2 separate regions of the Homo sapiens genome follow, and region 2 is linked to region 1. Evidence: fine-mapped expression QTL. Tissue or cell type: lung. Region 1 holds a variant in brackets; the other region holds the start of a gene. All regions are shown on one strand. Distances are between the middles of the regions.

Region 1 (5,990 bases):
GGAAGGCTAGTGAACCAAGGCACCATCACTCACATGGAGGCGCTAATAGAAAGACAGGAGGACAGACGGATGGTCACCTTTCCCTCTAGCCCAGGCCAGCAACAACCCCTTGAGGCTCCAAAGCTCCTTGTCCCATGCACGCTGGTAAGCGAGCCAGTCATTCTCTCAGCCTGGCCACAGATGGCCTGCTCAGTGCCTGGAGACTGCCCAGGCAGGGCTACTCTGCAGCAGGCAGGCCAAAGGCCCATGGTGCCAGGGGCCCAACTGCACATAGCGCCATTCTCTGCCGCCCAGTGGCCAAAAAGGTAGGCAGGAGGGAATGGTTAGTTTTCACATCTCAGCAACAATGAACGCAGAAAGGGTTAAACACATTCCCAAGAAAATATTTTGACAAAATAAATATTTTAACCTATAATCAGGTATAATTAGTGCTTATAAGGAATCCCAGCAATAATTTAGTGTAATTAAGTATATACTGTATCTGTGATTTCTAACACTCACGGAGAGGCTGGTGGGCCTTGAGAGTCCAGGTTTCCTGACAGAGCCGCACCCCCTTCCTGGACCAGGCAGCCTAAGGACTGTGCTCCCCAGATGGTGGGGTCTGGGAGCAGAGATCTCAGGACAGGCCATCTCGCCAGGGCTAAGTGGAACCCACTCTGGGGCACCGGGGCTATACTTGCTTCCTGTGCAGGCCTCAAGCAAGAGCCCCCTCTGCCTACAGGTGGGGCAGGCTACCTCCGGATAGGAGGTGCAAGCAGGCCACCTGAGGGGTGGCTCCAGGCTAGGAAGGCAGGTGACACTTGTCAGCATGGCCAATGGCCTCCTGCCAGCCCATACAGGTCCACCACTCCCTGCTGCCCCTGGGGCAGCCAGGCCTCTCCAATGATGCCTGGCAACCAGCTGGCGCTGGCGCTGGAGCTGGAGCGGGGCAGTTCTGGGAGTGGGTATGAAAAACAGTTTTGCTGGGGGCTCCCCAGGAGGGCGCCTATTTCAGCTTCACGCACTATGGAATCCCTGCTCCTTTCAGAGCCTCCAGGCTCCTGACTTTTTGGGACTCCTGGTTCCATGAGGCAGGGAGGCTGGCTCTTCCCTCTGAGGACACTGGGTCTGGGATGCAGTGCTGAGGCTGCGGAGCACTGACTGCCCGAGGTCGGACCGCCCACCACCCGCAGGCCCAGCTCTGGCAGGGCCTCAGAGACAACCCAAGTCACAACCCAAAGGCAGCCAAAGGGCTGGGGCCTCTGGGTGCACCTGGGCCATCCCAGCCACCTTTTCTGCAGCTCAAGTGAAGCCAGCTAACTTCAGCAGTCTTCACATTCAAGCTGGCCTCAGGGGGGTCTGTCTTTGAGAAACATTGAGGAGGCAGGGGCTCATCAAGCATCAGGGAGCAGAAGGCCCAGGCAGGTGTGGCATGTGCTGCCAGAGAGGACAGGGCTAGAATCAGGCTGGCCACTCCACGGAGGAGCTTCCTGGGTGAACCTGAGCAACTGGAGTGAGACATCCCAGCTAGTCCCACCCTCAGCCAGACAGAGGTTTCCTCTCTGGAGGGAGCTGGAGGGCTGCTAGCCTGGCACAGGGTCCTGGGTCGGGCAGCACTTGCTCTTCACTGGAATAGTTCCTGTTGGTGCTCAGCATGACCCCCAGCTGAAGTCGCCATCCTGAATGCTCCCCAACGACCATGTCGCTGGTCTCTTCTCCCGTCAAGCCCAGCCCCCTTTCCCTGCTTGGCTGGTGGTCTGGGCCGTCCTGCCAGGTGGGAAGGGCTAACTACACCATGGATCAGGAACCTGTGCTGACCTAGGCAGTGCATGCTGGAGGGGACAGGAGCAGACTGACCCAGCGAGCTGGGCCCAAGACACACGGGGATGCATACAGCTGCAGTATTCTCCTTCTGAGCAACAGCAGCCTGGTGGGAGGTGTGGGGCCAGGTGTCTGGCTGGACCAGGGCCTGGGATGACCCGAGTCCCTTGCCCATGGCCAGGAGACACACCAGTGAGGACACGGGATGGGAATACATGTTACCAGCCCCTAGCTGCTCTGCCTGCCTTCAGGATCAGCTTGGGGAGAGAGTATAAATTGGTGGCCAGAGGACCTCTGAGGTGGGAGGAGGCCAGACTGTCAGGAGAGTCTGTGCAAGGAGGCCAAGGCCTATGCCAGGGAGCAGAGCAGGGGCCTTAGTGCTGCCCAGGCCTCTCAGTCACTGGGAACCTCCAAGGATGCCACAAAGCTGTTTGCTGCTGGCTCTTGAGGCAGATGTGTGAGGCTACGGCAGGCCAGGCCACAGCACTGAGTGTGGCCCATGTGCACATCTGTGACACTTCCCCAGGCAAGCCAGAGCAATACCTCCAGTGCAAGTCCCTCCACAAGCCAGGACCAGGTGTGCGGGTGTGAGCCTGCAGTGTGTGCGTGGCAGTTTGGTTTATTGGTAGTGTCGTCTCAGCAGCGTGCCACATGGCCACCATCTGCGGGCTGCCTGCTGCCCTCCCAATTGTCCTTGGCCCTCTCCCTGCCCAGGGAGCCTGCAGGGACCCTCGGTGCCAGGCTCGGCTGCTGAGCCAGCTTGGGTGTGAAGCCTGGGCTGGCAGCTGAATGATGGAGAGAGGGTCAAGAAGGTGAGAGACCCCCACCATGGAGACCCAGCAGAGCCTTCTCAAATGCTGATAAGCCAAATGTCACAAGGTGACAAGTCCAAGGAGTGAGACCAGGCCCATGAGTGCAGCACACCCTGCTCTTCCAGAGATGCCACAAAGCCCCTTCAGGGAGAGAGGGGCCCAGGAGGGCAGAATGCCTGAGAAGGTCGCTGAGCCAGGCAGAGGTGAGCACAGGGCGGGGCCGGGCGTGCTCTTTCTCCATGGGCGGGTGGAGGAAAGACAGTCCGGGTGGTCTGCTCAGGAAGCACTGCCTGGGGCTGGGCCACTCTGCCCGCTCTTCCTGGGAGGAAACATGGGCAGAGGGGCCCATGGTGGGAGGGGAGAGAGTCTCTGGCTGCAGTTGTCCCACCACTCAGAGAAAAGAAGTGGCTGAAGCTGGTCCTGACTAGTGGGAGGCCTGGGAGCAGACACGGTGGCATTTCCATGGAAACACAGGTGTGCAGGCCGTGTGGAGCTGGGGATGTAGGAGTGGCCAGTGCCCGGTGTCCACGGGGTGC[G/A]AGCGGGGACCCGCCATCTGGGGAGGCAAACCACAGAGCTGCTCACAGGGCGAAGAGGGCATCCTCTGACCGCTCTGGCTTCTTCCGGCCAGAAGGGTTTGAGGCTGGGGCAGGAGCCTCCATGGGGGGCGAGGGGAGGTCGGGAACCATTTCAGCAGCTTTGGCTCTTTCTTCAAGGAATTTATCAAACTCTGCAATACAAACCAAGGCAAGGGTCAGGGTTGGTGAGGGCAGGCCACCAGAGGAAGCGCACCCTTCCACTCCCCAGCCCGTTTCCTCCTCTAGGGCAGGCATGAAGCCCACCTAGGAGCAGGTGGGTAGGGAGGGGTTCGTGAGCTGCAGTGTGGGGGGAGGCTCCTGGCTGTGCCCAGTCCTCCTGCCCTGGAGGGAAAGGCTCTGGAAAACACAGCCCAGAGTGCTCACCCTACCGCTGACCATTTTCCAGATCAGCACTGGGTTTTGTCCATTTTCCAGATCAGCACTGGGGGTGGGGCAGGGTAAGCTGGAGGGGCCAGCTTCTGATTAAACAGGCAGGAACCATCCCACCTACCCCACCCTTGCCCACCAATGGAGGACTGAGGAGATGCTGAGGAATGCAGTGGGGAGGGGGGAGTGCCCCATTTCTATGGGCACTGAGAGCTAGGGAGCAGGGTCCTCTGAAGTTTCCCTCCCTGCGGAGCGGTCTGGCCACAGGGTCTGGCAGACCTGGGGAGAGGAGGACAGGAGCACGGAGAGGCAGATGGAGTGGGGCAAGATGAGCTTGGGGAGGCAGGATGTGAAGGGCAGGGGATGTGGGGGTGGCCATGTGGGAGAACTAAGACCCCGCTGCTCCCATCCAGCCCATCAGCTGAGGCCCAGGAGAGGCTCCTCCCTTCTGGCTCAGTGGCCCAAGGGTGCTGCTGCGCACCTCCACAAACTGCGTGTCTGAGCTGGGCTGAGCACCTGTGGGTCAGGACCAGGTGGCAATCTGCACCCGCTATTCACCAGCTCTGCAACTTTGTGGAATTGACATGTTCTTTCTGACCTGTTTCCCAATAAGCGAGATAAATCACACTTCCCAAATCAGCGTAAGACCTGGGTGGGACAAAGCCACCCGTGAAGCCCATGGCTCAGGGCCTGGCACCAGTAGGTGCTCTGGCAGCGGGGGCTCCAAGATGATGGGGGCTGGCTCCTGTGCAGCCTGCACAGAGGCAACAAAAGGGGGCTGTAAGGCCACTGGCCAGGCCATACCTTCACTTGTGACACCCTCCTCCAGATCATCACCCTTCTGTGGGAGGAGCAGAGAAAATGAAATTAGGGCACTGGTCCAAGCACTGCCCGCCCAGCCACCTCTGTCTGCCCATGGCCACCCTAGGACAGCACTGCCCAGGGTAGCCTGAACAAAACTTCCTAATTTTCCCTGTTTCCAGATTTCTGTAATAGTAAAATACTGCTCTTCTTATTGGAGAAACAGAAGCTTTGTTTTTAAAAAACAAAAGCAAAAAATTCAAACATGTTTTAGGTTTTGATCCTCCAGAAAGGCTGGAAAGAAAACTCCAAAAACGGTGCAGGCTGGTTCTCCAGCCTGGGCTGCAGAGGGCGGGACCCCACCTTTGGCACTCTTGAGGCTCTAGGGAGAGGCACAGAGCAGTAGCCACAGGGGGCTGAGCCTGAGCACACACAGGGTCACGTGTGCCCAACACAACACCCACTCACTGCCAGCCACAGGGTTTCTGGGAAGACGCTGTTGACACCAATAGCTGGAAACCGCATGAGGCCTTGATGGCTCAGGGCCACAAAGCCCACAGCACAGGGCCTGTCACTCAGTAGGTACTTTGGGAGTGGAGGCTGTGCCTCCAGAAGCCATGTCCTGCAGCCTCCTGGGAGCTGCACCAGCCTCCTCCCGTGGCCCAGATTATATTATCTGCTGCTGGCTCCTCAAGGAGCCATGGAGGCTCTGTGCACTCAAAAATTAAAGTGCATCAGACTTGATTTTGTTTGGAGAACATGGTAGTGTCTTGAGCTCATGGGGTTCCCTGGGGACTGGGGAAGAGCAGCATGTGCAGGGCCTCATTGGGAAGGGGCAGGATGGGGAAGTGACAAAGCCCTGGGCTGGGCTAGGAGACCTGGGTTCCTTCCTGACTCTACCACTGACCTGCTATGTAGCCTTACTGGACACATCCCCTCCCTGTCTGGACCCTGGGGTCCCCCTTAGAAGTTAAGGACCTTGGTCCTTCCTGCCTTGCTTCTGTGAGAGAAGCAATTTCTTTTCGAGACAGCCCCTTGGGAAAGATGTCCCGGGGTGTGTTCTTCCTCCCTGACACCCAGGCAGCTGCCTTCTTTGGCAAGGCATGTGTTTGGAAAGCTGACCTTCTGGGGAGGAGGCCCAGAGCAGCCAGAGGCCCCAACCTGAGGCCTGCTGTCCTGGTGTGGGAGGTAGCCAGGTCACCAGCCCACAGACAGCCAGGCTGACCCTGTGGTTAAAGAACTCAACAGGCTCTTCTGCCTGGGGACAAGGCCCCCTACAGAGGAGGCACCTAGGAGGGAGATGAGGTGTCTCCAGCTCTGGGGGAGAATCCAACTACCCCATGACTCTGGGCAAGCCACTTCCCAGAGTGCACTTCTTCATCCGCCACCCTGGCCCCCTACTGGGCTGCTGAGAGTGAAAGTGCTTTGTAAAGAACAGAGGGAGGGGCCAGCAGTTATCACATGCAGCCACTGCAGCTCTCCTTTCTTGGGACCTGTTGCCATTTTCAGATGCATAGTATCCTCATCTTCTAGCCCTATCTCTGAGGATGGAGACAATGGGTCTTTGGGGCAGGGGTTCTTTTACATCAAAAATCAGGAAGGGAGGAGGGGGATG
Region 2 (5,990 bases), 130 kb after region 1:
TTTCAATTTACTGAGCTTCTACTATGTTCCAGATACTATGCTAAGTGTTTTCATACATTATCTCATTTAAACTACATTACTCTGTGAATAGGAATCTTTCTCTCTCTCTCTCTCTCTCTCAGAAGACTGACAAACTAAACCTCAGAAAGCAACACAATTTTCTGGGGTCACACAGCCAAGAAATGGGGGCCAGGTCAAAATTCAACTTAGGTCTCCCTGACAGAAGTATCAAGCTCTTTCCACTTGCTATATATCCCTATATCTCTTATATTTGGTTTTTTGTTGTTGTTGTTGTTGTTTGTTTGTTTTTTGAGACAGAGTCTCACTCTGTCGCCCAGGCTGGAGTGCAGTGGCACAATCTCAGCTCACTGCAAACTCCGCCTCCCGGGTTCAAGCAATTCTCCTGCCTCAGCCTCCCGAGTAGCTGGGACTACAGGCGCATGCCACCACGCCTGGCTAATTTTCTTTTTTTTTTTGGATTTTTAGTAGAGACGGGGTTTCACCGTGTTAGCCAAGATGGTCTCGATCTCCTGACCTTGTGATCCGCCCGCCTCAACCTCCCAAAGTGCTGAGATTACAGGCGTGAGCCACCGCACCCAACCACATTTGTATTTTAAATCCCCTTTAACTTCTACCCCTCATTTACTACCTTGTCATTTTAAAGGTGTAGAGCTTCCTATTATAAAGGGGACAGAAAGGAAAACAATTCTCGCAAGTTTTCTGGCTCCCTCCATTAACTGGCTGGAAATTAGTTTTTGGAGTGTGGCTGCCATGCAAGAGCACCTGAAGAGAGTGGAAAAGGACATGGGGAAGAAGTAAGGAAGTGAGAATCCAGAGACTCTCCAGTGGGCAGCAAGAGACAAGATGTCAAAAAGGTGGGAAAACACTCTTTTGGGGTCCCTCATGCATTATAAAAGATACTACGCCAGAAAGTAAAGAAAGGCTCCTAAATGCTAATTAGCCAACAGGAGAGACCTCAATAAGTTTATAGGCTCCACTAAAGGCTGGAAAGTAAGCTAAAATTTCATAAGCAAAGCAGAAAATAAACAAATCACTACTGCTGAAATCAGGCCCATAAGAACACCAAAGATCCTGGCTCATAAAAGACGTTTTACCAGTCCTTCAACCAACCAGGAGGAATCCAGTTTTCAAACAAACTAATCAGCATTCTTGACTGATCAAGTGGCATAAGCCACTGCCTTGGGTAAAAAGGCAAGTTGCTTTCTTAGTAAGGAAGTCCCATATGGTGGCCATTTCAGTATTCCTTTACCTACACTTTGGGCTTTCCTTATCCATGATTCTGGCCATCTCTGGTGTCCCCAGGTGTCCACATCCCCCCTATAGGATTAACAGATAATGCTGAGTACCATTCTCTCTACATTGCCAACAAAAGATTTCAGCTTTGGTAAACTTAATATGAGGTGGGGGAGGAAGCAACAGTCAATGTGCAGAGTACTACAAAGAATATCAAAACTTGAGAACTTTAAGGGATCTATCACATCTCATCTCCAAACACTTTGACAGACAGGGGAACTTCAAACCAGAAAGGGCACAAGGTCATATGGAGTCACTGACAAAACCACTGCTAGAGTCCAGGCTTCCATGATTCCCAGTCCAGGGCTCTTATCATTAAATAACACAGCCTCCCTTCTTTCCTGGGAGGCACTGCAGGCATGCCATCCCCCTGCCAAGATAATCACCCTCCAAGAGCCCCTCCTCCTATCCCAGTCCCTCCTACAGCACAGCTGAGTTGCAGCTCAAATTAGCAAGTCCCGGAGCAGGGGGCATTTCTGGGAGGGTGCCCAGTCTGAGGGTTGCTGGTACCGAAGAGGAGGGACAAAGATGGAGAAGAAGGTGACATCCCACAAAGGGTTTGGGAGAACTGGGTCCTTGGGGCAGTGGCAGTGAGCCTGCTGGGCTGGATAAAGACACATGCAGTGGCATCTCCCAAAGCGCATTGGGGAAGCAGACCAGCAGTTGGCACCACCTCTAGCAGCAAAAGGAAGGGCTGAGCCTTGATGGGCAGGGAAGCCTGGGGCATCTCCGAGTCCAAGTTGGGCCTCAGGGGTGCCTCCTGGCAGAGTGGCACTGGCGCGCCCGTGAGGTGGCACCAGTGCCCGGGAGGAGGCCCGAGGACACAGATGCCCTGCCTGCCCGTGGGATAGCACCGGCACCCGGCGAAGGCCCAGCCCCCCCGGGAGGTGGCACCGGCGCCCGGCGAACGCCCGACGACCAGGATGCCCAACCCGCCCGTGAGGTGGCACCGACGCCCAGTGAAGGCCAGACGACCAGGATGCCCAGCCCGCCCGTGAGGTGGCACAAGCGCCCGGCAAAGGCCCGACGACCAGGATGCCCAGCCCGCTCGTGGAGTGGCACCCGCGGCTGGCGGAGGCCCAGCCCGCTCGTGAAGTGGCACCGGCGCCCGGCGGAGGCCCGCGGTCCTCACCAGCCGGATCAGCGGCCGCCGTTGCCCAGCCTCCTGCCCCACACGCGGCCTTACCGAGGCACTGCCCCACTGGTGTGCTGAACGGGTTCCCCAGGAGGAACTCCATCTTGGGTGGACAACACGCAGCGGCCCGGGCCCCCTGTCTGCCACCTAGGCCTCCGCTGTAACCCGCCGGACTCCCGTCCTGACTGACACTTGCCCCCTCCCCACTCTCTGGAACGCCGAGCTTAGGGCCTTTGGCCCCGCCCCCTTGCCGCGTCTCTATTGGGGGACACCTACGAAGCCCGCCTCCTATTGGTCGTTACACCTCTGTCAGCAAAGCCCCCACCCACCCCGCAGCGTCCGATTGGGCGGAGGAGCGAGCTAGGTCACCGGAGTCCCTGTCAGCCGTGGCGGCACCTCCCCTGGCCCGCCCCCAAAGGGGAAGCTGCGCATTTTGATTCCTCTGTATATTGGTCAATCTAAAGGATTCTTACTATTATTGGACAAAAGACGAGTCAATCACGCAAATGGACGGAACAGAGGTGAATCTAGGAATATCCCCGCCCATAGAAAGTACTGATTGGAGAAACATTTGTTTTCTCTACGGCTGGTTGGTGTAAGGAGTGTTTCACCACACGGAGATGTGGTCACGTGACTTGTCAACTTTCACCCAGGATGTCTCCCTTCTGACTTCCCCTTAGCAACCAAGTCGCGGCGCTTGGTTCCCCAGCAACCGGGAGACGCGTCTGCTGCGTGGAACCGCCGAGTTCCCAGCGCTTGAGAAGGTGAGACCTGGGAGCTGAGGCTCCCGGAGGACTTGCAGGGACAGATAGTGCCCGACGTAACTCTTTCCTGTGACCTTTTTCTCGGAGAACGCCGGCCCGGCCCTTCTCATTTATAAAATGAGCACGTAGGTCCTCTCCCAGCCACTTTACAGTCGTGTGAGACAGCCAAGACACTTTAGTCCTGGGCTTGTCAAGCTTTTGAATAAAAAAAAAAAAAAATACTAAGGAAGCATTTCCCGAGGGAGCAGGGCCAGAATGGATTTTTAAGGGGTTCCGTCTTCCAGCCTCCTTTCATAGAAAGAGAGGTACCCGGTCCACTGATAACTTTTCCCAGAATTTAGCCATCATAACTGACCTCATAACTATCAAATGATTTCATCTTGGTACTGTATATACCGCTTTGGATGTGAATACGGCTACTCAAGTTCTGTATCCGTCTCTGTCAGTAACTCATTGTACGACTTTGGACAAGTTCCTTTACCTCCCTGGAGCCTCAGGTTCCCTAGCTGGGAAATAAGGGCATTAGGACTCCCTTTTTATGGCCTCCGGAGCTTACATGTACTTAAATAATGCATGTGCACTGAGCACACAGTAAGCATTCAGTAAGTGATTGATTTTATTCTTTTTTAAGAAAAATTTTGTTCATTATTTATTTATTTATTTATTTTTTATTTTTAAAAATGGAGACAGGGTCTTCCTATGTTGCCCGGGCTGGTCTTGAACTCCTGAACTCAAGCAGTCCTTCCACCTCGGCCTCCCAAAGAGCTGGGATTACAGGTGTAAGCCATCTCGCCCAACCAATTTTCTCCTTATTAATTCATGGCCAATAGGGACTATAGTTTTCAGATCCTGTTGACTTCAGGTTATCATTTCCCAGGAAAATTCTGGATCTGTTATCTGTGAGGAGGCCACTCCGTTGACAGTTGTGTAAAACTCTGCTGCTTTCCCCAGCTCCAACCTCTCTGGTCTTCAACAACACTATCATCAGGCAAGTCAAAGGGGACCCAGGTTGGGTGGTAAACTATAAGATCCCCATAGAAGAGGACTGTTTGGGCCTTGGCCCTGAACCCAGGACAACTGTGAGAAACACTGTGAGCTGTGGCAATGATAGTCCCCAGTACCCTGGATACAGTTGAGTCATGATTAGGAAAATGAACTCTGCCACGTGCTAAGTGTATGAAGTTGGGCATGTTAATTAACCTTTTTAACTAGCTTCTGTTTTCTTATCTGGATATTGGTGAGTATTAGCCCTACATGTAAATTAAGTTTCTAGAAATTTCTCCCATCTACATCTTGCTAACACCCTGGTCATCTCTCACCTCAGTACTTTTGCAATTCTCAGTACTGTTGCTAGAGTGAGCTTCTTAAAAACTAAGATCTGATCACATTGCTTCCCTTATTTTTTTTATTTTTTGAGATGGAGTTTCGCTCTTGTTGCCCAGGCTGGAGTGCAATGGCACGATCTCGGCTCACCGCAACCTCCGCCTCCCGGTTTCAAGCGATTCTCCTGCCTCAGCCTCCAGGGTAGCTGGGACTACAGGCATGCACCACCATGCCCAGCTAATGTTGCTGCCCTTATTAAGCCCTAGGTGCTTTCCAGGGATTCTAGGATAATAACAAAACTCCCACAGACCTCTCCAAACTTGCATCACTTCAGCCAAAGTGCAACAAGTCTGTTCTCTCCCACCTAAAGGGCCTTTCCACAAAGTTACCTCCTCCTTCTTTCCTGCTTGTCCTTCCAATCAGCCCTGTCTTCCTTGGCCAGGCCAGGTGCCCCTAATGTACAATTTCATAGTTCCCTACACCTACAAATTGTCATGGTTTGTAGTTAAATATTTGTATTATTGTTTGATTCATGCCTGAAGCTGGGTTAAAGTCCGTCTGTTTTATTCACAGCATATAGCAGTTACTCACTACCCATGTGTGGACTAAATACGTGATCTCACACAAATGCAGAAGGGAGAAATTATCCACCTTTTACAGATGGGAAAGCCAAGGCTTAGATAGGTGAAGTGAGTTGCCAAAAGATGCACAGTCAGGATCCAAATCCTGCTCTGATGTGCTTAACAAATAGCATATGTAATAACAATCCCCCATTTCCTAGCATAGCAATTGCTGGGCTTGACTGAAAGCAAACTTGATCTGTCACAGGTACCAGGCCCTGATGAAGTAGGAGGGATAAGTCAGTTAAAGTTTTGAAATCAAAATTAAGAGTCATTTCCCAAAGTATAGCACCTTTTTTTTTTTTTTTTTCTTGATGGAGTCTCGCTCTATCACCAGGCTAGAGTGCAGTGGTGCACGATCTCGGCTCACTGCAACCTCCAACTCCCTGGTTCAAGCGATTCTCCTGCCTCAGCCTGTCAAGTAGCTGGGATTACAGACATGCGCCACCATGCCCAGCTAATTTTTGTATTTTTAATAAAGTCAGGGTTTCACCATGTTGGCCAGGATGGTCTTGATCTCCTGACCTTGTGATCCGCCCACCTCGGCCTCCCAAAGTGCTGGGATTACAAGTGTGAGCCACCGCGCCTGACCTCCCCACCCCCCCCCCAAAAAAAAGGCCAAACACTTTGCAGAAAACATCAGCCAAATATAACACATTAAAATTCCCCCAAAGACAAGTTGATGACAAGTTATGGGAAACCGCAGGGGAAGCCATTGCATAAGAGTGGGGAGCTAGAGAGAGGCCGAGGTCTGGAACTGTCTTTGGGGGTAGAATCAGTCACCCCAACGAGGTGGAGCCAGTGTGAACAGATTGGAGAGAGTGGGAGGAAAAG

What was found. PIP is the estimated chance that this variant, and not a neighbour inherited with it, causes the effect.
Region 2: TOM1L2 starts here. The variant in region 1 is fine-mapped to the expression of TOM1L2 in lung (TOPMed, PIP 0.99).

Annotation. Positions count from the first base shown.
Region 1 is chr17:17,844,445-17,850,434 of GRCh38, forward strand. TOM1L2 (target of myb1 like 2 membrane trafficking protein) reads right to left here. Exons shown (of 15, transcript NM_001082968.2): 14 at 4,379-4,415; 15 at 1-3,339. The coding sequence ends at 3,191. Among named protein-coding and RNA genes, the nearest start is that of SREBF1, 10 kb to the left of the region's middle. RefSeq lists enhancers at 1-343, 4,102-4,948, 5,450-5,709, 5,531-5,825. The variant G/A (reference allele first, on the strand shown) is at 3,149.
Region 2 is chr17:17,969,762-17,975,751 of GRCh38, forward strand. It overlaps TOM1L2 (target of myb1 like 2 membrane trafficking protein), which reads right to left and starts at 2,639. Exons shown (of 15, transcript NM_001082968.2): 1 at 2,501-2,639. The coding sequence starts at 2,552. It overlaps DRC3 (dynein regulatory complex subunit 3), which reads left to right and starts at 3,101. Exons shown (of 14, transcript NM_031294.4): 1 at 3,101-3,213; 2 at 4,091-4,201. RefSeq lists enhancers at 2,132-2,701, 3,073-3,392 and a silencer at 2,343-2,392.